Linked DNA regions of Homo sapiens. The protein of the gene in region 7 interacts with the protein of the main gene of each other region in a pairwise test. Each region holds a gene or a part of one and is shown on either strand. Other genes may lie near its edges. The genes, in order: NEK2, CHCHD3, PYGM, RSPH1, SH2D4A, TNIK and PDE4DIP.

Region 1 (3,500 bases), about 63 Mb from region 7:
GACAGTGTGGAATCTATGAAAAGCCAGAATAAATATTTTTATAATATTGAAATGGTAGACTGCAATATTGGGAAAAAAGAAGGTATTTTAACAGAGATGAAGCCAAAGTTTCATATAATCCTTGTTTCATTTACTTCTATCAGTAGTTTCATTTCTTTCCATCACTTATTCACTACAAAGTTATTGTGATCATCAATCTAACTTAAGTAGGGTTTTTTGTCTGTTCCATTTACAAAATGCTGCCAATGCTCACTAAATTGATCACACTACATCTCAATTTATTAAAGATGGGAATAATAGCTTTCATATATGCTGTCCTACATGGAATAAGGGAGTTATAAAAACTCTAAATTTTATTGAAAATTCAGATGCTCGATTTTTGAAACCAACAACTTTTAACAGTTAGTTTGTGTCATAAATCAAGCAAAAAGATGTTTCACAGTTTGCATTTTACATAATCTTAAAGAGTCGATTAAATTAGATTGAGGGTTTCTATAAAATGGAGAATGTTAGACAATGGTTCACTGGTATATACGATAACCACATCTCAGTGCGGCAGAGTGAAGGGACAATGCCACACAAAGGCAGGGCCCTGAGAAAGCTGAATATCTATATACCAGACTTTAAATAAAGAAGGAAATGCAGAGAACATATGTAGATATTAAACAATCAAATTTCAACAAATATGTCTTTCAACTTGAAAGGGTGTTAGCAAAGATCCAAACGTGACAGCCTATTCTGCAGGTGGCTTATCATGCCTTTTAAGCCATGCTTTCTATGAAAAATGAGGCATGGCAATATTAAAATGTTTATTTTTACTTGAAATGCAGTTTATCTCTCTGAAATCTGAAACATACAATAGTTTTGTAAATGCCCTAATTTTTAAAAATAAGTATCGGCTGGGCACGGTGTCTCATGCCTGTAATCCCAGCACATTGGGAGGCCGAGGCAGGCGGATCACGAGGTCAGGAAATCGAGACCATCCTGGCTAACACGGTGAAACCCCGTCTCTACTAAAAATACAAAAATTAGCCGGGCTTGGTGGCGGGTGTCTGTAGTCCCAGCTACTTGGGAGGCTGAGGCAGAAGAATGGCGTGAACCCGGGAGGCAGAGCTTGCAGTGAGCCGAGATTGTGCCACTGCACTCCAGCCTGGGCTACAGAGTGAGACTCCATCTCAAAAAAAATAAAAAAATAAATAATGATAATAAAAATAAGTATCAATTACTAAACATGTAGTTTGATAAGGTAAAGAAAATCAAACATGAAATTCTATGACTCATTGCCTCAGGTCTATGAACCCAGGAAATAAATCATTGCTATAACAGAATTTTGTTTCCATTGAAATGCATATATTCAATGAAATCCATCTTAAAATTTGAGATTTGTAAATGAAAAGGGCTACCTAAGCCACTTTGGGAGCAACACTGGTGCACATTTCTTCATTTGTAGCACCAGCTTCTGTTGACCAAGTTGATTCTCATACCTGGATTACTTGCCAGAGACAGGAACTTCCGTTCCTTTAGCAAGCTGTAGTTCTTCAACAGATTTTCTGCTCTAGCCAGTTTGTCCTCTGCTAGTCTCTCACGAACACAAAGCTCCTGTTCTTTCTCTTTAAAAAGAGAATGGACAAAGAAAAAAAAATTAACAACTGACCTTGACTAAAAAACAATTTACATTTGGCAATCTTATCACTACTAGCATGCCTGATACTGATAAGCAATGTTTGGGGAAAGGATTCTCACTATGCCTCAGTCAACCTGATTATGTTAGTTTTTAATTGAGTGTTTTAGTAGGCTGTATGTTATCTTAGATTTTCTTGAAAGGACTTGTTTAAACAAATACAAAGTTAGCTTCAACCTTTGGTCATCTTTTGTGGGAGTAACTCATTTGGGAAAACAAAAAACTAAAGCTATCTCTGCTCTTCACTGAAGATAAGCAACAGCTAATTTTCAGGGCATGATCTGGCCTCACAGTACAAAAATCTCCTTCTTCTGGTTGAATGACCACACCCAAACAAAAGAAAAAAAACACAATTCAGTTAGGTGGTAGTTCATAGGATTAGTATTAATAACAAATGTTACTATTTATTCATGGCCCCAAATTCAGAAAGTATTCAGATTTCAGTTGCTATATGAAATTATGGCTGGTCACAGTGGCTCACGCCTGTAATCCCAACACTTTGGGAGGCCGAGGCAGGTGGATCACCTGATGTCAGGAGTTCAAGACCAGCCAGGTCAACATGGCAAAACCCCATCTCTACTAAAAAATCAAAAATTAGCCAGGCATGGTGGCAGGCGCCTGTAATCCCAGCTACTCAGGAGGCTGAGGCAGGAGAATTGCTTGAACCCGGGAGGTAGAGGTTGCAATGAACCAAGATGGTGCCACTGCACTTCAGCCTGGGCAACAAGAGTGAAATTCCATCTCAAAAAAAAAAAAGAAAAGAAATTATGAAACACTGGGGAAAGTTATAAGAAAAAGCTTTCTTATTTTTTACAGAGGTTTCCAAGTAAGTATAGGTTGTACCTATACAGTAAGCATATCTCACAGGACTATACAATATTTCATTATTTAAAGCCTGGATTGGGCATAAAGCTGCAGAAGTAAAATCAGGTGAGTCATGAGGGTGACAGGTCACAAATACGACCCCATCTCTCGTCTCCTGATGTTAAAATGAAGAACCTCACTCTGTAGCTACCTTGCATAACCCTAAATGCTTGCGAGTAGCTCTCATCTTGGTGGAGTAGACACACTTTCAATATCAAAACTAAATTAGCATCTAATCAGTTAATACTCATAAGTCAATGTTAATACCCACCAGAGTATTATTTATAGACTTAAAATATCTTGTATCTAGATTCTCTATTGAACTGCCTGAACAGACCAGGTGTGGTAGGTCACACCTATAATCCCAGCACTTTGGGAGGTAAGATGGGAGGATCACTTGAGCTCAGGAGTTCAAGACCAGCCTGGGTAATATAGTGAGACCCCATCTCATTTTCAAAAATAAAAAGTTAAAAAAAAAGAAAAGAATTGCCTGAACATATCTCATCTACATACTGTAGGGTTTTAGACCTGGAATTCTGTTGGAGTGGCCATTTCAAAAGACAAAAGTCATGGTTTTTTATTATGGAAAGCAGCAATTTTAAGACCTTCCTTTACAGTGGGAAAACATTAGGGTATTCACAGTAGAGACGAAAAAGAAAAAAGTAACTCTAGAGTAAAATACAAGGCTATCGTATTAGGGCCATCACAGTTAAGGCCCAATAATATATAACTAGCAACTGATCTCAGAGAAAGATGTCCAACATGAAGGTGCCAGCAAGCCTGATTATTAAAAAGTCTAAAATACATATTTTGGTTTCTCAAGTATTTTTCAAAAGCTTCTAATAAGATCTGTATGTATAAAATATTCTGCTCAAAGAGATATTCAGACACATCAAAATAACCCACTTGGTAGTTCTCCTTTGCTTTGACCCCCATTCAGACTTACGCTCCAATC
Region 2 (3,500 bases), on a different chromosome or scaffold from region 7:
TATAACTACATCAAATTAGACTGCAGAAAGGCATGCTGTGTAACTTAAACACTAGATTTAGTTGGGTTAGAAGGTCAAATCTATGGAGTTTGTCAGCAGAAGGAATCAACGTTTCCAACAATTTCTGCCTCTCAGAACAACCATATCCAACTGTTAAATTGGTTAAATGATAGGCAATTATGTGACCTGCCAGAATTGATAATTTGCTTCAGGGTTTATCATTAGCTTTCTAAAGTACATAAATTAGAGAAAATGCACGTCCTGTGAACATCATATTGTTCTGATATGAAGGGTCAAGAGAAGAATATGGCTATGGTCTATAAAAGCAGTGGAAATTCTTTTTAAAATGCTATCTCTGGTTTCCCTTTCCCTGTCCAACTAAGTGAACTCTATCAACTGGTGGAAGCGTTGGACAGTGACTGAACGGTGGTGTTTTGTTTTTTTTTTAACCTGGCCCTCTGCCTACCTACGGCTTATGGGCCCAAAGGTGCCAGCTCTTAATCTGTATCCTCTTCGCTAGCTCTAAATATTGGCCTAAAAGTATGAGGAATGACCTTGGGAACATTATTATTAGAAGACAAAAGTTCAGGGCAAGTGGAAAAAAGTATAATTGTAGTAGAATCCTTTTTTCTGCAAGTAAATGAGTTGTACATAAGGAAGATATGGGCTCTTTGACAATGATCGGACACAAGTTATGCCCTAATCAACTCATTACAGTAATTCTTGATGATGATGACTAGGGCTTAGAAAGCTTTTTCACACACAGTGGCCCATTTAGTCCTTACCACTGCCCCAGGTCATCCAGTTTTCAATTTGCCCAGTGCCCCCAGTGGCCTGGCTGGCACACCTACCTGTTTGGCATGATTGACACAGTGCATATACTGGGTGGCCAGAGCGGAGCATTTGAGGGTCTGGTGGGTGTTCTCACGGTAACACTGAAGAATTTTGGCCTGCAGATCAGCACAGACTGGATGAGACTCATATCGCCTGAAAACAAACACAGGGACCGCTGAGACCAATGGTCTTCATTCAGAATAAAAATCAAGGTTAAAGAACACATAAAACGCACAGTAAGACACAGATGTTGCAAATGTAGAAAAAGGTTTAAGAGAAAGAATTTTCCTTAAACTTCAAAGATAGCTAAATTTTTCCCATGATAAAAATGACAAAGGGTAAATAAATTCTAAGAAATTAGTTCCACTAATTGACACTACTGTGAGTTAGTCTGGACAATATAACCATCCCTTCCAAACCGAAACCATATCAACATGCCAGAAACTTGGAAGCCCTAAGTTCTCTCTTCCATTCCCATATCCACTTGGTCACAAAGTTGGAGATCCCTACGGCCTGGTCCTCCTGCTCCACACTCACTGTCGTTACATTGCTTCCAAGTGAGCCACATCCTGAATTCAAGAAACAACCTCCCAGCTGGTCTCTCAGCTTTGACACCCTCTACTCCTGCCTGCACACACCTTCCAGAGGGTTCTTTCCCATAGGAAATCGAAGATGGTCTCTTTTCCCAGCACTTTCTACACAAAATACAAGGCCAGCTGGCTGGTCCTTCTTGACCAGGTTCCTGCCTACTCTGTGGCCTTCACCCCCCAACCCTGCACACAGCTGAAGCCTGGACAAACCCAATTCAGGGTTTCGTTCTTACACTTCTCTTCAAGTCTAAGCTCATGCTGCTCTTGCTTCTGGAAATGCTCTACGCCCAAACTCCCACCTATGCCTCTATATCTGGAAAAAACCTACTCATCCTTTGATACTTCACTCAAGTGTCAGCTTTCATTAGCTCTCCACCCCCCAACCCTGGTACAGTCTATCATTCCCTTTATGGTGACCCCATTGGTCCCGTATTCACTTTTCTTGCCATGCATGTGACACTGACTACACCATAGTCTAATACAATTTAGCAACCTACATTTACTAGAATGTAAATTCCAAGGACTGTGACTTATTTTCTTTGTTACCTCAGCTATTAGACATCGGAACCCTACAGAAGTCATGTAATACATTTACTGAATGAATACAAATCGGTGCAAAGAAAACATTTTAAAGTCCCCTGGGTTAAAATTTTGCTACTTATACTTACAAATCTCAGATTTTAGTCAGATTGCTTCTGTGAATATGTGAGACCAAATGTAAATGTTTCCAAAAACCTTATAATATATGCTTGAAAAATGATAATGAACCAAATGAGTTATACGAATGAAGGTAAAATATTCTGATTAATACGGCAGGGAAGTTTGGACTGCAAGGATTAAATACATACAGAGAAAAAAAGCACAATATTACTACTTTTAATCTTGAAATTCGTGTTTTTTCAAATTAGTCTTAATACAAGAAGCTTCCAGTCTTATCACTTCTATTTTTGAAATTTAAATTTGTTATTTCCATAGTAATCTTGAAATCACATTATTTTAAATTTAATGGGTTCAAACAAAACCCCTAGAGAACACAGGGGGAATATTTCTCATCAATAAGGAAACGCCTGGGTGATGATTTGTCTCATTATTTTTATCCAGTACACTAAGCTAATATATATTTTACTAGAATAGAAATGCAAAGCATGTTGGTGGTTCCCTGACTTCCTACTATCCTCTAAAGAACACAGACATACAGAGAAAAAAAAATGTTTCAACAATTTTTCTATAACATCACTTTTACTTTTTCATTCATTACCTTACTGCTTTGTCAAATACCTAAGAACAGAATTAAATAGAATCCCAGGAGTTTCCATGCTTTAAGATTTCAAACTTCAGATGTCTGTGAATTTTTCTGGACACAGATTTCCCTAATCCTTTACCACGAACATCAGGATTTAAAAGGAATCAGCCGTGCTTCAAAGAGTATAGGCACAGATACCACTAAGTGACTAATTATAGCAAGACCTGCATCTAGATAAATATCGAATAAAATATGATTAAGCATCAGATCAGCTGAACCTAGCAAATACATGACTAATGACTAATAGCTCATAGGAAAGCAAGGTTACATTCTATCCTAGTGTTGACAACTGATCGTGTCTCCAATGTGTCTCAGATTTAAAAGCAGGGGGAAGGAGGTGAGGAGGGAAGGCTAGAACAACCCTGACCAGATATGCAGCCCTTCCTCATTAACATACGGGAAAAGACTGTAAAAATGAGCATCCACACACTGCATGTCATAAAGAAGACAGTTTATTTTTTCCTTTAAAAAGTCTACTCACGATGGGATAATTCACCTCATGTTATGGACTCCTTAGAAAGAGGTAGTTTAAGTTGTAGATAAGCATGTATCCTGGGTTGAGCTATTAGTCATGCAAGTTAAAGTCCATGCGTTATTTATGATTTGAAATGTGTCAAAATATACTTTTATCACCACAAATCAATACTACTCACTTCCAGGGCTCTTGATTTCCTGTTTGGTGATCTGTTCTGTGTGTGTGTGTGTGTGTGTGTGTGTGTGTGTGTGTGTGTGTGCAGTCATCCTCTGAAATTCTTTTTGTACACACTTCAATC
Region 3 (3,500 bases), on a different chromosome or scaffold from region 7:
GTAGAGATGGGGTTTCACCGTGTTAGCCAGGATGGTCTGGATCTCTTGACCTTGTGATCCGCCCGCCTTGGCCTCCCAAAGTGCTGGGATTACAGGTGTGAGCCACCGCACCCGGCGTAGAGCAAGGATTTTTTTACTTCCATTTCCCAAACAATATTATCTCTTAGGGTTGATATAATATTCTCTTCCTTTTCCTTCAGTTCTATATTACTTCTTTCTTTTCCAATTTCATTAACCTTATTTGCTGTAAGCGCCCTCTAAAGTTTCCCAGAATCCTGCTGGCCATGACCAAGACCTTGCTGGGCCTGGACCAGTCTTTCCAGACGTGCCGCTTGCTCCCAGCACCACTCTCCAGCAGCCACACCTGGGTGTCTTTTGCCCGTGAACCCTGACCCCCATACCCTCTTTGGTCAAGCTTATCCACATCCTCCACCCGCATGCCAAAGATGAAGAAGTTTTCCTCTCCCGCCTCTTCTGCCATCTCCACATTGGCCCCGTCCATGGTGCCAATGGTCAGAGCCCCGTTGAGCATGAACTTCATGTTGCCGGTGCCTGAGGCTTCAGTGCCCGCAGTGGAGATCTGCTCAGAGAGGTCTGCAGCTGGGATCACTGTGGGGTGGCAGCAGGGGGACAAGTCAACTCAGGGAAGACCCTCACACCAGCTGGGGACTCTCAGATTAGGCTGGCCCCAGGCATAGCTGGACTCAGAGTCGCCCCACCCCAAACTCCCAGTCTTCACCAGCCAAGCCTCCCTCTCACACCGCACCCCCACTGCCCTCTACCTCTTGTTGATTCTTGACCATCTAGGTCCAACCTGGATTTCCCCACCTCTGTTGCAGATTTGAAGGTAATTTCACCCTGTACTGCCTGAAATTCCACCATTAGAGGGCATCCTCATGGGGTTTTTGCTTTGTTTTGTTTCCTCTTGTTTTTTGAGACGGAGTTTTGCTTTTGTTGCCCAGGCTGAAGTGCAATGGCGTGATCTCGGCTCACTGCAACCTCCGCCTCCCAGGTTCAAGTGATTCTCCTGCTTCAGCCTCCCAAGTAGCTGGGATTATAGGCACCTGCCATCACGCCCAGCTAATTTTTGTATTTTTAGTAGAGACGGGGTTTCACCATGTTGGCCAGGCTGGTCTCGAACTCCTGACCTCAGGTGATCCACCCACCTTGGCCTCCCAAAGTGCTGGGATTACAGGCATGGGCCACTGCGCCTGGCCTCCTCATGGTTTAAGCATTGCCCTCTCCAGATTCTTCTTTCAAGTACAAGTATCCCAGGAAGAGACGACTGATACCTCTTCCTGAGACTGAACTAGTCAGAGCCTCCCTAGGGTCCCTGTTGGCAGCACCCACCTTTCTCGGCCAGTGAGACTCGGTAGTTCTCCAGGAAGATGACACGGAGGCGGTCACCCACTGCCGGGTCATGGTTGACCACATCCCCGATGGCTGTGACGAGTCTGATGATCATCTTGGCCATGTGGTACCCAGGTGCAGCCTGAGGGGACAAAGTCTGGGGTCAGCTCTACTGCCTGGCCCCCCACCCCCTATCCTGCAACTCAGCTGGGCTGACCTCAACCTGGATATATCAAAGGACGGGAGCCCAGGGCTGGAGCCTGGCTTCTCACCTTCCCTCCAATCATCACAGTCCGAGGCACAAAAAACTTATTGGGCTCCCTCTTGATGCCTGTGGAGAAACGAGAGGGATCCAGTGGGCCTACCTTTCCCTCTGGGTAGTAGCTCCTGACAGAGGCTGGGCTGGGACACCGTAGGCCTGACTCGAACAATCACTTGCTATGCTCTCTTAGCCTCAGTTTGCCCATCTGTGAAATGGGGATAATTCCATGTCCCAAGAGTAGTCCCAAGTCCAAAGGAGATGTTGGTTGGGCAATATGTACTATGCCGCAGGAACACGGGGGAGCACTGAGAGACAGGGTAGAGTGGCTGCCACTCACGGTTGTACAGGGTGATGACATGGAGGCAGTTGAGGAGCTGTCGTTTATATTCGTGAATCCGCTTCACCTGGATGTCGAAGAGTGAGTTGGGGTTGATGTGGACTTTGTATTCCCTCTCTAGGTAGGCAGCAAACTTCAACTTGTTTTCCTGGAGGCAGAGACGGGGAAGGGCTCACCAACAGGCCACAGCCTCAGGAAATCCTACAGTCCACACTCCAGTCAGCCCCAGGAGGATGGCTACCAGGAGGCTCACTGGCTACTTCTGTCCACTCCTGTACCAGGGCAGACATTGCTAATCAATGTCAGCACTGTTCATGTGAGGTCAGATGATGCCTTCCCACCACAGACTCCAGGCAACTTCCACCAACGGCCTGGGCTGGCAGGAGAGATGAGCTCTATTTGCCACGCCTGACCCAGACATCTGGCCCCTCCAGCGCTCTCCACACAGCACAGCTGTCCCACATTGCATCTCTCCCCACCTGCTTCACTTTGGCCACATCCCGAATGAAAGCTTCATCATCCACAAAGGAGAGCAGTTTGCGCAGCTGGTCCAGGTCAGAGATGAAGTCCTCCCCGATGCGCTATGGGAAGACGGCTCTCAGCCAAGCCCATCCCCATGTCCTCCCTCCTCCCAACACAGAAGGGGCCATTTCCAGGTCAGCCAAGCCCCCTTCACCCAGCAGGCTGCTCTGGGGGCCCTCCCAGCCCCTCCTCCTCCAGCCGCCCAGATGGGGCACGGGGCATCCATGCACCTTCCTCCCCTCCCGTCCTTGAGCTCTGATGGCTGACCCCACCTGACCCCAGCAGGCCTTCCTGGCTTCCTGGCCTTTTCCTAACGCCAGCATGACCTTGCGCCTTCCCTACCAGATATCTGCCCCCTTCCAGGCTCACTTCAGATGTGACCCATGGATGACTCCCTCTGCTGTGTTCACCTCCACAGCCAGGGCCTCCATTAGCACACAGAGCACCCTCATGCAATTAAGATGGTGTCCCTCCTCCAGGTGGATGCGAGGCTTGGGGAACACAGTGCAGGAGGGATTTCAGCCTTCAGCTGGGAGCCCTGATGCAGTGAACCACCTACACGACCATACCCAGCTGATCCCTGCAGGGACCCATGTTGACTCTACTGGCCCTACGGTGGCCTCTCACCTCAGCAATGACCTCTGCCAGCCCGGGGTTACACAGAACCAGCCAGCGCCGAGGGGTGATGCCGTTGGTCTTATTCTGGAACTTATGAGGCTCCAGCTCATAGAAGTCTTTGAAGCTGCAGGATGAGGTTGGACGAGGGTCACCACTCACCCCTGTACAATGAAGGCCTCTGCCCTGGGGCCCCTACCCTGGTGTCTTGCTGAAAGGGGCCTGGGGCAGGGAATGCAGACCTGGGGAAGGTTGGGGGTGCTGTGTGTAAGAGGAGGTCATCTCAGGACAGGGCGGCACTGGAAGGGGCTGCTGTGCTTGTAAGAATGACGCCACCTGTGAAAGGCGCCAGGGCCCAGAGACCAGAGAGTGGTCGGTGAAGGGCGGGGCTTCTGTGTGACAGAGGCGTGGAGT
Region 4 (3,500 bases), on a different chromosome or scaffold from region 7:
AGAGAGAACACGGAGGCCCTTCTGTTCCACCACCATCCTAATCCATCCCCACAGCACAGTGGGAGGCCTTCCACAAAGCCCTCAGGTTGTTGCTGCATTATTTCATGGGTGGTTTTTCCTAAACAGCAACAGGACTTGGGGCTTATATCAGTAATTCTCTCTTAGATGTTACTGATGCTCCTTCTACCTTCTTCTCATCATCCTGAAATACTGACTTCTAGGAACTTTTTCCAGTAGAGTCTAAAGCTGCAAAGCACTTAATAAGATGGGCTTTATTTTTATCACTACACAAATGTAAAAACTTGCTCAATCACCAGTAACCCTAAACAGTTATTACCAGTGCTGACAAGATATCAATTTAACCAATAGGTTCCTTCAGGGAACAGATGAGAGGTGTCCAACCCCATGGAAATCCCAGCAAAATACTAAATACCTCCCTGTCACAATCAAATCCTAAAGCCGACTGTCTTTCTTAGGCTTCTGACTATGTGTGTAGGAGGTTACACACACACACACACACACACACACACACACACATAAATGAAGTGGAACCTCGGGGGAGGACAGTATGTCAAATTCCTCTACGTTTTGTTAGATGCAGGTGACTTACAGGAAGCTGCCTTCCACCCAGACTAGAGCACCCTGCGGTCCATGAAGAATTCGTGCTCAGAGGAGGTAGGGCCTCTTACTTAGCAACAAAATCAAGCATTTTGGCCATTTCATTTTCTGGTTTTCTAGGGACCTGCCCCTAGCCAGTGGTTCCTTTTAGCTGGAGCAAAGCAGGAGAAGAGGCAAGGAAGACAGATCACTGTGAGGCCACACAGGATTCTGGTCAGCCAAGAAGGTGGACCATGAGCAACCATGGGCTGTTTGGGGAAACTAAATAACCATGGCCAGAGTGATGTGCAGAAAGTAGAATATCACAGGAGCGGGAATCAGGAAAAGAGGGTGGCTGAGGTCAGGGCCGAGAGCCCCGGGGATGTCCAGACTGTGGCCACTTGGGAAGCAGCAACGGAGCACGGACAGTCACTTGATCATGGGAGGTTAAGGGATAAAGATTCAAAGACTCCCTTTGGTTTTAGAATCTAACAAACTCTAGGAAGAAAAATGAGAAAAGTTAAAAAACTGTCTGGAGGGCTGGGCGCAGTGGCTTACGCCTATAGTCCCACCACTTTGGGAGGCTGAGGCAGTGGATCATCTGAGGTCGAAAGTTTGAGACCAGCCTGACCAATATGGAGAAACCCCGTCTCTACTAAAAATACAAAATTAGCTGGGCGTGGTGGCACATGCCTGTAATCCCAGCTACTCGGGAGGCTGAGACAGGAGAATCGCTTGAACCCGGGAGGTGGAGTTTGCGTTGAGCCGAGATCACGCCATTGCACTCCAGCCTGGGCAACAAGAGCGAAACTCCATCTCAAAAAAAAAAAAAAAAAAAAAAAAAACCTGTCTGGAGAGCATTGAAGAGCATTGAATTGAAAAATTAGTGATGAGTTTAGACTTAGGATTCAAGGCCAGGGCCCTTGGGGTGAAAGGATGGAGCATTAGGTAGAGACAGCAGTGGGCGGCACAGAGCAGGTGCGGGACAGGCCCTCATGCACAGGATCTCCCGCAGCCTTCCAAGCTCCCCACAGTGTGGCTTCTACCTCCTGTGACCAAGGATAGCTTTCCACAGCCTCACACCTGAGCCCAAGGTGACGAGGAGTCGGTTTAAAGCAGGGCCTCTGGGTGATGCCAAGGGCTTGACGAGGGACACAGCAACAAAAAAACAAAACGAGGTGACTTGGCTCAGGTTGTGACATAGTTTGGGTGTTTGTCCCCTTCAAATCGCATGTTGAAATGTGACCCCCGGGGTTGGAGGTGGGGCCTGGTGGGAGGTGTTTGGGTCACGGGGGCAGATCCCTCATGAATGGTTTGGTGCCTTCCCTGTGGTGATGAGTGAGTTCTTGCTCTATTAGTTCACACAAGAACTGGTTGTTAAAAATATATATATATATACCTGGCACCTCCTCCCCTCTTTTCCTCCTCTTTTGAGCTATGGTACCAGCTCCCCTTCACCTTCCATCATGAGTGGAAGCTTCCTGAGACCTCACCAGAGGCCAGGCAGTTGCGGGTGCCATGCTTCTTGTACAGCCTGCAGAACTGTGAACCAAATAAACCTCTCTTCTTTATAATCTACCCAGCTTCAGGAATTCCTTTATAGCAGCACAAAAAGGACTAACCCAGGTTGAAAGGGCATTGATGTGATGGTAGACCCAAACAAGCCGTTCCCCGGCTTTCTTCAGAAAGAAAGTATGCAGACATGGGAGAGTTTGTGTACGATAATATATTCTTAACTCACTAGGAGGGGACACCTCAACAACTTCAGAGACCAAAAAACAAACAAAAGCGTGATTCCACACTCCTCCTTAAAACTCAAAACTTCTTACAGTGAGAATGACCTCATCTAAACAAATAAGTCAAAAGGATCAAAACCAGTACCAGGGTCAGGAAATGTTGCTGAATTGCTAATTATCTAGAGGGATTGATCAGACATTAATAATGAGAGGAATAGGAACACATATATTCCCACCTCAACACACATACGCATCTCGATGCCTTATAACGGCAATATTAGCTGACTAGCTTTACTATTAACCAGGGAATGTCAATGTAGTGTTAATATTAATGTTAGATATTGGAAAGGAAAAAACAAGAGAAAGACTTACCAACGGCACGTTCAGAGGAGCATGCTGCACAACGGACAAGCTAACAGTCACTGGACAAACTGTGGCAACACCAGTTACAGATTCAGTTTTCACTTGCAGGACCTAACACTGTCTAGAACCCTCCCACTCAGGATTAGTTTTTTATTTATTGGTTGTTTGTTTGTTTGTTTTTGAGACAGAGTCTCACTCTGTCGCCCAGGCTGGAGTGCAGTGGCGTGATCTTGGCTCACTGCAAACTCCGCCGCCCAGGTTTAAGCGATTCTCCTGCCTCAGCCTCCTGAGTAGCTGGGATTACAGGCATGCGCCACCATGCCCAGCTAATTTTTGTATTTTTAGCGGAGACAGGGATTCATCACGTTGGCCAGTCTGGTCTCAAACTCCTGACCTAAAGCAATCCACCGCTTCGGCCTCCCAAAGTGCTGGGATTACAGGCGTGAGCCATTGTGCCCTGCCAGGATTAGTTTCTATCAACAAAAACGGTATCTATCAACAAAGTCTAGAGTTCTGCAATAAATGGGAAATGATATTGTTTGCTTCTGGCAATTTAGTTCTGTACTAACACATGCAGATAAGGAAAATGAAAATGTGAAAGTGCCTAAGAGTTGGCATAACTTTTAGGCGAATCACCTCCAACCTTGCAGGATCAATATTTTTGAGCAGCTACTTCCCTGTTAATGTAACAAAACCCTACATGCTCCGCAACTTACCATATCTGTTAAACGATATTCACCATGTTGTTCACACCCAACATCAAATACATACTTTCCAGGGCCAACAGGCTACGAGCAAAGAGAA
Region 5 (3,500 bases), on a different chromosome or scaffold from region 7:
AGTTGTCATTTAAATGGCATTGGTTGTAATGGGACTGCAGATCAATGTAGGATCTCAACATCCTGCAAATATAGCCATACCTGCTGTCTTCCTCAAGCCACCTCAGGTTGATCTAGCAGTTCAGATTTCTCTGAGTCAGATGGAAACACTAATTCTTTCACAAACCTAATTCTTCTAGCATTCTGGAGCATCCTCTCCTCTGCCTTCAGTTGCATGGGCTTATTCTTCTCCTATGAGTTTTCTCACCCATTCTGCTCACTCAAATAGGAGTCAAGGCTGGGTCACAGGCAGGAGCGGGATGCTAACACATCCAGCCTGGTATTCCTGTGTGCTTCTGATTACAAAGTTAAAATGTATTCACTATCAAAAATTTAGGGGAAAAAAAATCCAAAACACAATATTAAATTACAAGAAAAACATTCAAATAAATAATCTTGAATCTCACCTTTCCAAGAAAACTAATGTTTACATGTTATTATAACCTTCCAGTTCTTTTCCTTCAGATACTTAGACATTTCTAAATAGCGAAGCTTTTCATTCTATTTCATGGTGTTTTTTCTTCCCCAAGCTAATGAGATATAAACAGTCTAAGATCATTAAACACTCTCCAAAACCTATTTTCCATAGCTATATATCATGCTATTTGATAAATTACATCATAATTTTGGTGATACAGAAATAAATGGAGAACGAGTCTGCTGTTCAAAAGTAGCCTGTAAGCATTTGAGTAATAAGTTAGTAATAACATTTGAGTGGTAACTTACTGTGAACATATCTCTCAACAACCCACATTAAGCGCTTTCTAGATTGATCACATTATTAAGGGAGAGAATCAGCTGAGAGCCTGGAAGGTGCTATGGAGACCTCTGGGTACTCACGAGATGCCTGCCATTCCGAGTCTTCTTTCCAGCTCTTACAAATCTGCTTCGTTCTCTCTTCTTCTATTTGATTTATTTCTTCATCTTGTTTTTTCTTCATAGATTCTTTCTTCTGTTTAAAAACAAAACAAAAAAAAACAAAAACAAAACAAAACAAAAAAAGAACCTTGGTGAGCAAATCCAGCAGTTTCCTGAAGGACGGGGTACCCGGCACAGCTGACTTCTATCTAACTCTCTGGCCCACTAGGAAGGATCAAGTGTGGACTTTGGAGTCAGTAAGACCTGAAGTAAGACTGACCATTGCTAGCTAGTGTGTAACTCCAGGAGCAACAAATGAACCTCTCTTGGGCTGTTTCCCCATAAGAAAGATGAGAAAAAAATATTTCTTAGGGTTATATTGAGGATTAGATAACTTAAGAAGTCCCTGGCACAGTGTATAACATATAGTAAGAAAAAATATTCCTTTTCCTCAGACACAGTACTTAGCTGCTTCAAACTGACTCCCTGAAGGATGTAAACACACTATTACATAGAACTAGCATCAACCTACTTTACAGTAGCTGACAGACTCCACAGAAGAAATGCACATTCCCAGAGCAATCTCAGCTGAATCTCTCCCCCGAGTCATGTGTCCCAAAATGTGGTACTTACTACATGATTTTAAGTGTTTCAAAAGAAATATATATCATTATTATTTTTTTAAGATGGAGCCTCACTCCTTCGCCCAGGCTGGAGTACAGTGGTATAATCTCGGCTCACTGTAACCTCTGCCTCCCAGGTTCAAGCGATTCTCCTGCCTCAGCCTCCTGAGTAGCTGGGATTACAGGCAAGTGCCATCACACTTGGGTAATTTTTGTATTTTTTGAAGAGATGGAGTTTCACCATGTTGGCCAGGCTGGTCTCGAACTTCTGACCTCAAGTGATCCACTGCCTCAGCCTCCCAAAGTGCTGTGATTACAGGCATGAGCCACCACACCCTGCCAGAATATGTATTTTTTTGTTTCAAAAAAAAAAAAAAACAGAAAAATATTTTTCAAAAGCATCTTTTGAGAAGGGAGAAATACTTTCAAAATGTAAATATTCCTTTAAAAGGAGAATTAGGTTTTTAAAACTTAGGGTAAAATTCCACATAACAAAATTTACCACCTTAACCATTTTTTAGTGTACTGTTTTCTGGCATTAAGAGCATTCAACGGAAATCATTTTAAACGAAAGAGAAATGAACAAACCAAATCACTTAGACCTGAAAAGTACTTTGCTTATTTGGACACAACCTTCTGAGTGCTCACAAGACGACTGAATTTACAGTTTGGTGGACTAATAAAAGCCTTGGTTAGCTAAGCAATAAAACAAACTGAAATGGCCAGAAAGGGCTGCCTGTGCCCACCTCTCTATCACAAGTGACAAGCTTTTTAATTTTGTGCTTTCCCACAGAAATGTAAAGACTTCCTTGCTATTATGTCACCACAACGTAAAGTATAAACATTAATATTGTGAAACTTGTTTCTGATCGCTCTGGGCAGTCATAAATCACAGTTCAAGTAATCATCATTCATAAATTGTGCTTCACTGCAGATGTAACTAAACTTCTGTGCATTTACTGTTTTCATTTTTTTTTCCTTACACTGTTTTCCTGCCTAGAGCTAAGCTCCTTTTGTTTGCCAACATTTGAAAATCCAAAGGACAGCTTTGATGTTTGAAAGGACTGTTAAAATTTGCCATCCTTTGATTGAAGCTGTTTGCCAGCCCAAGATAGATACATGTGCTGCTAGCAATTTCTAAGCTTAAACAGAAAAAGCTTCAAAGTGGAGCTTTGTTCATCCTTCCACATGCATACGTGTTTATTTTTAAACGGTTAGGAAACATATAGTGAAAACATCAAGCTATGATCATCATGGATATTGTTGCTGAGGATAAGCAAGAAATTTGGAACATGACATGATTCTACCTAAGAAAAAATATTAATAATAACAGATGTAGTACTTGGTTGATGTTACTCAAATGTCTAACAGAGCTATATTTAATAAATCTACTCCTTTAATCTGCATGTAATTATGTACATGCACAGTGGAAAAGAAGAAAAATTAACGAGTTTCACAGAGTAATAGCAGATGAGATCTGCTATTACCCATCTATATACGGCCCTGACCACCGTATTTATTCAAGAAAGCTAGAAAACGTAAGGAACTTGTCCTGCGTCTCTGAGAGAATTTTACTTTTATCAAAATCTGTAATGGTTTACTTTCTCTATTCAGAAGACCATCATTTCCTTTTCAGCAGTGTTTTGCTGGAAGCATGTTGGACCAGGACTCAGGACTGTCAGCCAGGCATGGGGAAATCCAGGTGATGGCTTGGAGTGGAGGGGCGGAGGGGCCGAGGCTGGATGCTAATCCAGATGCCCAGGGTGGAAGGTGTGGAGACCCAGATGTGTGGTGTGAGCTGTGAAAATGTGTTCAGCTAACAGTACCAGAAAACAAGGGCACGCTGGGCCCATATAGAAAGCCGCTGGGCCCGTTCAGAAAGCCTCTTGTCCAGCCTGTTGATGGAAGCACTTAGAATGCCTCCCCACCAATTCCTTCATCAGAGCCTCACAAGTGTCCCCAAAGGAGGATGCCTCTGTTT
Region 6 (3,500 bases), on a different chromosome or scaffold from region 7:
GGAGGATATCTTGCTGATTGCCTGAAGATAATCCTCAGTTACATTCCTGCATATTACCTGCTTTAAATAAATGCAAATGACAACCACCTTTTCAGGAGGGGCATAATAATGTAATCCAGAAACTAGAATGTTTCCCCTTCTCTTCCCCATCTTGCCCAAACCACTAGATTGAAATGGCTCCATTTTCCTAATGTGTATTTCGTTCTCATTAATAGTACATCAGCTGCTTGTGTATTTAGGCAAAGTCAGTAAGATCGTAGTTTTTTTTGTTGTTGTTGTTCCATTTACAGTAATTATTTTCTCCAGAAACAAGCCACATTAGTTTTTGTCATTGGATTCCCCCCACTTCCAATTTTTTAAGAAGAAAAATTTGGTCAACTACTGTTTCGTTTTAAAAATGTTAAATGCACCTGAGATTGCCGGTTGAGCTCTCTATATGTCTCCTGGAGATAACACTGCTGTGATGAACAGTGAAACAAAAACAAACAAAACGAGGTAGGTTAAAACAGGAAGCGCAACACAGATATTGTTTGCAACACCTCGATACCACAGGCGGCCATGCTTGTAGCTTTGGAAAAAAAAAATCCCAGTCGCATAAAAGTTCAAATCATTTGAGTAAGAGTTTATAAGGACACAAGTCAACCTGAACTAAATACATACATACTTCTGCACAAATGTTGTTTACCGTATGTTGGGTAATTTGGAGGAAGGTAAAGTGATTAGGGTCTCAAAATTTTGTCCAAAGCCTTGCTTTCAAGTTCTCTAAAATTGGAGCCAATGATGCCTCTTGTATCTGAGGCAGGCTTAGGAGTCTAGTCCCTTCTCTCACCCACACAGGGAGAACACAGGCAGCTCAGAAACATTTATTATTAATTTTTTCAGTCACAGTTTTCATCTTGAGAAAGTGGCACCCTCGGGAGAGCGCTGGGAATGTTCAGAGCCTGAATATCATCCACTCTCCAAGTCCCAGAAAGAACTCAACAAAGTCTCAGTCCTAATGAAGCCCAAACCAAGTGACCTCTTAGCTGGGAGGCTTTGTGCATTTTAAAAAAGACTATGTAAGCTTGTTTCCCAGAAGCTCTTTCTGTCTGACCCCATCTGTCATCCCATCTTTTTCCCTGATCTGTTGCATAATAGCTGAGGGAAAGTTGTGTTAGAGTGTCCCTCCATCGCTAGGCCAGCTCAACTCAATGGCGTTAGTATCCTGTTCAACACACTCCATTCTGTAAAGGGCCATATAAAAATGTGGCCTGTCAGATTCACAAAAGTGGTAGTTGATTTTATTAGACTAGTAGTTTTAAGGCTAGTAGTTTAGCCATTTAAAATCTATTTCCCAAAAGAGGGGAAAACTAGTATTTTTCTTCTCTTTTTAAAAATTCATTAGCCAGTTGCTATCAAAAAGCAACCTTTTGGGTTGGTGAAGGCAAGAGAGTTCTTAAATTACTCCACTATGTAGTTATGGCCTTCAGCCTAAGGAGATAAGGTACATTTATTGTGCTGTCTCTCATCATTGGAAATTTTACAACATACCATATACTTAAAACTAGTAGGCAGACAGAATTTAAAAGACTCATTTTCGCAGTATGCATTCTTTCCCCATTCTTGCAGAGTAAAGGGGTAAAGAAAAAAGGTAAAAACCTGAAAACCCACCATAACACAGCTTAATCGTTAAGAGCACACAATATTTGTTTCTATCCCTAATTCCGAAGGGCACATGGTCCATCTTTGTCCACAGACAAGGCAGCATTCTTGGGGATCTCCTGGAAATTCCTGCCACCTTTTTCTCTCCTTCTCAACCAGGCTGCAACATTGAAAGATGGACTGTACTGGGAGGGGCGGAGGGAGAGGAAAAAGGGAAAGCGATATGTTCAACCAAGCCTTCTGATTCTGCCTCTAGACTGGCATAAGTCCACATGAGTTATGTTCTTTTAAATTAGAAATAACGCCATGAAGATAAGTGCCAAGTGCTCTTCTGTTACCAGTTCATCATGGAATTTCTGTTGAGGGTCATGAAAAACACTTGGCTACTTCCTCCAGATCGCACGGATGCAAAAAATACCTGTTTGAAATTAAAAAGAAGTTAGTTCAACTGCATGGTCTTTTCCCCTCTTTTCTTCAACCGTCCATCCATTTTCTCTCACATGTCCTATCCTTGCCATGTGTCAGGTCTTAAGACTCAATGGCTTGTGTTTATAAAGTCCCTTTGGATATCGTGCATCCTATGTAAAAACTCCTGCCTTTATTCCTAGGTTGTTATTATTCCTTATTGTGGTATTGGTCTCCAGAGATGCTGAAGGGGCTATATCTTCATTTGTAACATCTCTTTGGGTGTTCACTTTTTAAAAGGGAGTTTCATGCTAGGATAACGTGCTGGATTTCTGGTCTAGGACCCAACAGGTTCTTTGTTAATTTCTAGAAAGGCACAGAAGCTTCCCTTCTCTCACCCTTAAATGACAAGAAAGTAGACTTCAGGATGGAAGGGAATCCCTTCAAATTCTCAAAGTCAAGGGGGAGTTTTAGGCCTACTGACTATCATACAGTTTCAGATTTCAGTTTTTTAAATTTAAGATAAAAACATTAAATAGTGTGGTCAGATAGGGCAAGGTATTTAATGCCTACTCATTTTGGCATTTCAAGAGTTAACGCATGGTTTCTCTGCTGATGGTGGCATATCCCAGGGCAAATGAGATCATAGCATTAATGAGGAGAACCACAGTCCATTAGGTCTGAGTCTGTTAAGTCATTTTATCAAACAACTGACAAACGTGAGAAAAATTTGGGTTACTGCTTGCTTGAGCTGAATGTTTAATGTTAAAGAACCACTGCCCCAGGAAAGTAATATTTTGGGCTATGGCCTAGCCCTTCAGTCAGTCAATACCTAACTTTTGTTAGGTAGTTGCTTTTGTCACTAGTCTAAAGTCTCTGCTACTTCATTTCTACAGCTTCTTCAGAAGAATGCTAACAACAACTTCTTAGGGAGGTCTCTGGAAATGCTTGACATTCACCTAATGCTGCATATGAAAGTAATGCTACTCTTAGGGTCAATGAATCAAAACGGAGAAGGACAGAGAGGGCCTATGGAAAACCACAATGAAGAAAAGAAAGGGCTGCTCTTCCCTCCAAGTTGTGTGCCCCTGGCTGTAAACCTTGGGTTGCAGACAACTGGTGTGGCCCCAGCCTACTCCTAAGGGTGTGGCATGGCTTGGAACAGCCCTGCTGGGGTAGGTTTTCAATCGGAATGTGGGTATCCATACCCAGATCACTCCTGGTTTTTTGATTCTTAGAGACTGGGTGGGAGCTGGAGTTTTACTAGGTTATGTTTGTTTTCTGGGAAATCTAAATGGCTGGAACCATCTTTGCCACCTGCAGCTACTGTCCACCCAGACCACATCAGGTCAGAGTAGTGGGCCAGGGTTGAATATAGTTTAGGCCCACATCACCAGGTTTGGACTAAGACCAACCTGACCTTTGGGGAACTGGGGTGGACAAAGGGATATACA
Region 7 (3,500 bases):
GGATTTTAAAATAAAATTGACTAAGGGTTACCAAGCCGGGAGATGGTTAAGGCAGTTAGAGATTCTAAAGCAGCGTTGAGAACACGATTCAAAGAGCTGACTCTGACGTCTAGGTTCAGTATGGAGGTGAATAAACAGCAGATGGCCTGGAAGATACAGAGAGTTGAGGAACTGGAATACATGACGCAGTAAACAACATTCAGAAAGAATGAGGAAGTGGGGGACTTGACCTGTGGTCAAGAAGTATAATTTCAGCATTAAGGATCCTAAGGGTGGAAAATCTGGAAGAAAGATGAGCTACAAAAGATGGCTGTGCTGATAGCATACTGAAGTGAATTCGAGTTAAGGCTATGTCAGGTCAAGGTATAACAGTGATGTATGTCCATGCCTAGTGACCCCTCTAGAATGTCAGTCTCTGGAAGGGAGGGTTTTTAGATCATTCACTATCATCTGTCCAGCATTAAAGAAGTCTAGATCATAGGAATTGGATGCGTATTTCTTTTTTTTTTCTTTTCCCGTAACTGAGGAAACAAGACACATATTTCTTAAACAATGATAAATACAATCTGAATGTATAATGGTGTCAAGTTTGATAACCTGTTGTATCCATTCTACAATAAGGAGACACCCACCAAACAGATATTCCCATCGGCCTTTTGGGGAATGTTCTCTGGAAAGCTCTTAATAGATGACCTTCTAAGTGCTAGAGGCAATGTTAGATGCTGAAGACTTATAGACAAAAACGTTTCATTCTGCCGATAAACTTGGAGTATGGAAAATATCAAGTTAACCAACTAGCTACATGCTACAACAGAGTAGGCAGAGCGTGTTCTGGCTACACCCAGATCTAGGTTCTAAAAATAATTCCTAAAGGAGGTACTTCTGAATCTAACCTCTGAAGGGTATACAAATTTATCCCAGCAAAGGCAAGGCTAGATGTGTAGGTGGGAACAACTGGTATATTAAGGCCCACTCATAATAATTTTAGCTCAGGGTAAATTAAGTCGCAATGACTCTCCAACCAGCTCCCCGGGTCTGCTGGCAATAATGCTGCTCCTGTGGTGCCAATAACCTGAAAATCTCCAAGTAATACAAGAAAGTTATACACAGAAAACCTCCAAGTGATACACAGAAAAACCTAAAACCAACTCAATTCCAAACTTTACATGTTGTCATTTGGTAGACACAAATGTGAACTTCTTCCTGCAATAAAAACCTATGTTGACTTAGTTTAAAAGCAGCATATAAAGGATGTTGCCCATAATCCCCTAACCAAACAAGGCATCTATTTTCTCTTTTCTCTGTCCTTGTAATAGACATCCTAATAGGTATACATAGTTTTGATGTAATTTACATCTATCTTTTACTTTCTTATGTTAAAATTTTCTGTTTATTATCATTTCAGGAAACGTTTCAGGATAGTAATAGAGATTAACAGCAACAGTGAAGCATTTTACCCTAGAGAAGGGTAAAAGTTGGAAATGTTGCTATTGATTCACCTAGGTTATGCCACTTTAATGTCAGTGTGCCTCAGTTTCCCCCTTTACAATACAGGGATTCAGGTCTTGAAAAAGATATTTAAATTGAATGCAATATCTTTCTTATGGGACTATAACTTTAAGTAATTTGCAATGTACTTTCAAGAACTGGAAATGTTGACATAGTTATTCTACTTCTGAACATCTCTCATTCAAAAAATAATGCTGTGGAAGAAGATGCTTTATGCACCTAGACATTTATCAAGTATTATTTATAATAGTTAAAAATTGGAAGTCTACATCCTTTGGGTTAGGCGTAATGATTTAAAAGACACTGTAAATCCACAGCATGTTATTCTACATTATGAATGATAATATACCACATTATGAAGTGGAAAATAAATTCATTCTTAAATTGTGTGAAATGCTAGAAATTATTCAATTTTCTTTGTGAGTCAATGCTTTCTAGTTTTTTTTTTTTTTTTTTTTTTTTTTTTTTTTCCGACAAAGTCTTGCTCTGTCACCCAGGCTGGAGTGCAGTGGTGTGATCTCGGCTCACTGCAACCTCCACTTCCTGGGTTCAAGCAATTCTCATTCCTCGGTCTCCCGATTAGCTGGGATTACAGGCACCCCCCACCATGCCCACTAATTTTTGTATCTTTAGTAGAGATGGGGTTTCAACATGTTGGCCAGGCTGGTCTCGAACTCCTGACCTCAAGTGATCCTCCTGCCTTGGCCTCCCAAAGTGCTGGGATTACAGGCGAGAGCCACTGTGCCTGGCCAGTGAATGCTTTCTATATGTCAGAAGTTATTGCTTCTTTCCACCCTTTCCACCATGACCATGATAAGAAGACACTAGTTGCAAGTTACCTCTTCCCTCACTGGCCTTGGAAAAGACAAGAAAGAAAGACGTTTCTGTGGAATGTAACAAGCAGAAAAGGACTGAAGATAATGAGACAGATTAAGGAAAGATGAATCACAGGCTGTGAAAGTGCTATGAAAATAAAACAGTATTATTATACAATTTATTATAAATAGTCTATGACTAATTTAGCACTTTAGCCATAAGCGTTCAGAAAAAAGAAATTCAGATCATGCTTGTCTTGCTGGCCACAGAACTCAGAAAATGCTCTGAGGCAGAGGAAAACAAGTCCTCAGTGCATTTGAGTGTTTTAAAATAGAATCACATAGAGCCACCTTGGGTCAATATGACATCTCTTGTATTCTGGACTTTCTTCTAACTTTAAATGCTATTTGAATTTTTGCCAGAGACAGCTTGTGGAATGTTCTGAGCCCAGTTTGGAATTTTATTTATAAAATGGGGTAGATTTCAATAGAAGTAGTGTCCTGGGGCATCCACTGAATGGATGGATGCTCCACTTAGCCTTGAAAATATGATCCCTCAGCCACAGTCAGGCGAGCCTCCCAGGATGGGGACGGCACCATGAGGTGTTACTTATCCTTTCTGAGACAAAAACAACCCCTTCCCAGTCTTTAGGTATTTTAAACATAGTCTTAGCATGTAGCTGAAAAAATGGGGGTTGGGGGAGTCAGGTCCAGACTGATCTAGTGTGTGGAAAATAAGCAAGTAGGAGTGAAAGCATTGATTCTGGCAAATTCCCCAAGCCGAAATCCAAGTATAGGCCCATTTAAAAGTAGACTGGAGTTGCCAAGGCAGAATTTCCTTCTTAAAATTCAGATAATTAGTTGCTAGCAGTGCTGAATATTAAACAGGAAATTCAACTTCCAAAGATGTTTCAATAATAGAATTCTGAAAACAAGCATTTTCCTAATATGAAGTGTTACATGCAAAGCACCAGCACCATAATAAGTAAAGGTACTGGAATTAACTAGGCCTTCATACAACACATACTAGTTGTGTGAATGCCAGCAAATCATTTAACCACTTTAACCTCAGTGGCCATATATCTCTGGTTGTAACTATGTCTTTGTAAACAGGACTCTCTACTAACTCACCATAAATTCAGAGAAAAATAAATGTCCCTGATTCCTCTAGGCTAA

Evidence for each region.
Region 1: the proteins of PDE4DIP (region 7) and NEK2 interact in a two-hybrid assay, tested with the Homo sapiens proteins (one large-scale study listed by BioGRID and IntAct).
Region 2: the proteins of PDE4DIP (region 7) and CHCHD3 interact in binary tests that used the Homo sapiens proteins (3 or more experiments, as listed by UniProt).
Region 3: the proteins of PDE4DIP (region 7) and PYGM interact in a two-hybrid assay, tested with the Homo sapiens proteins (one large-scale study listed by BioGRID and IntAct).
Region 4: the proteins of PDE4DIP (region 7) and RSPH1 interact in a two-hybrid assay, tested with the Homo sapiens proteins (one large-scale study listed by BioGRID and IntAct).
Region 5: the proteins of PDE4DIP (region 7) and SH2D4A interact in binary tests that used the Homo sapiens proteins (3 or more experiments, as listed by UniProt).
Region 6: the proteins of PDE4DIP (region 7) and TNIK interact in a two-hybrid assay, tested with the Homo sapiens proteins (2 studies listed by BioGRID and IntAct).

What each region holds. Positions count from the first base shown.
Region 1 is NC_000001.11:211,665,622-211,669,121, forward strand, and holds part of NEK2 (serine/threonine-protein kinase Nek2), read right to left. Parts: coding exon 3,492-3,500; intron 1,611-3,491; coding exon 1,485-1,610; coding exon of another isoform or gene 1,441-1,484; exon of another isoform or gene 796-1,440; intron 1-795. UniProt on the Homo sapiens protein: Protein kinase which is involved in the control of centrosome separation and bipolar spindle formation in mitotic cells and chromatin condensation in meiotic cells.
Region 2 is NC_000007.14:132,795,591-132,799,090, forward strand, and holds part of CHCHD3 (MICOS complex subunit MIC19), read right to left. Parts: intron 988-3,500; coding exon 852-987; intron 1-851. UniProt on the Homo sapiens protein: Component of the MICOS complex, a large protein complex of the mitochondrial inner membrane that plays crucial roles in the maintenance of crista junctions, inner membrane architecture, and formation of contact sites to the outer membrane.
Region 3 is NC_000011.10:64,749,975-64,753,474, forward strand, and holds part of PYGM (glycogen phosphorylase, muscle form), read right to left. Parts: intron 3,214-3,500; coding exon 3,099-3,213; intron 2,531-3,098; coding exon 2,429-2,530; intron 2,098-2,428; coding exon 1,950-2,097; intron 1,682-1,949; coding exon 1,623-1,681; intron 1,493-1,622; coding exon 1,351-1,492; intron 610-1,350; coding exon 402-609; intron 1-401. UniProt on the Homo sapiens protein: Allosteric enzyme that catalyzes the rate-limiting step in glycogen catabolism, the phosphorolytic cleavage of glycogen to produce glucose-1-phosphate, and plays a central role in maintaining cellular and organismal glucose homeostasis.
Region 4 is NC_000021.9:42,479,225-42,482,724, forward strand, and holds part of RSPH1 (radial spoke head 1 homolog), read right to left. Parts: intron 3,485-3,500; coding exon 3,413-3,484; intron 1-3,412.
Region 5 is NC_000008.11:19,358,693-19,362,192, reverse strand, and holds part of SH2D4A (SH2 domain-containing protein 4A), read right to left. Parts: intron 991-3,500; coding exon 879-990; intron 1-878. UniProt on the Homo sapiens protein: Inhibits estrogen-induced cell proliferation by competing with PLCG for binding to ESR1, blocking the effect of estrogen on PLCG and repressing estrogen-induced proliferation. May play a role in T-cell development and function.
Region 6 is NC_000003.12:171,061,906-171,065,405, forward strand, and holds part of TNIK (TRAF2 and NCK-interacting protein kinase), read right to left. Parts: intron 2,060-3,500; coding exon 1,976-2,059; 3' UTR 1-1,975. UniProt on the Homo sapiens protein: Serine/threonine kinase that acts as an essential activator of the Wnt signaling pathway. Recruited to promoters of Wnt target genes and required to activate their expression. May act by phosphorylating TCF4/TCF7L2.
Region 7 is NC_000001.11:148,850,928-148,854,427, reverse strand, and holds part of PDE4DIP (myomegalin), read right to left. Parts: intron 1-3,500. UniProt on the Homo sapiens protein: Functions as an anchor sequestering components of the cAMP-dependent pathway to Golgi and/or centrosomes.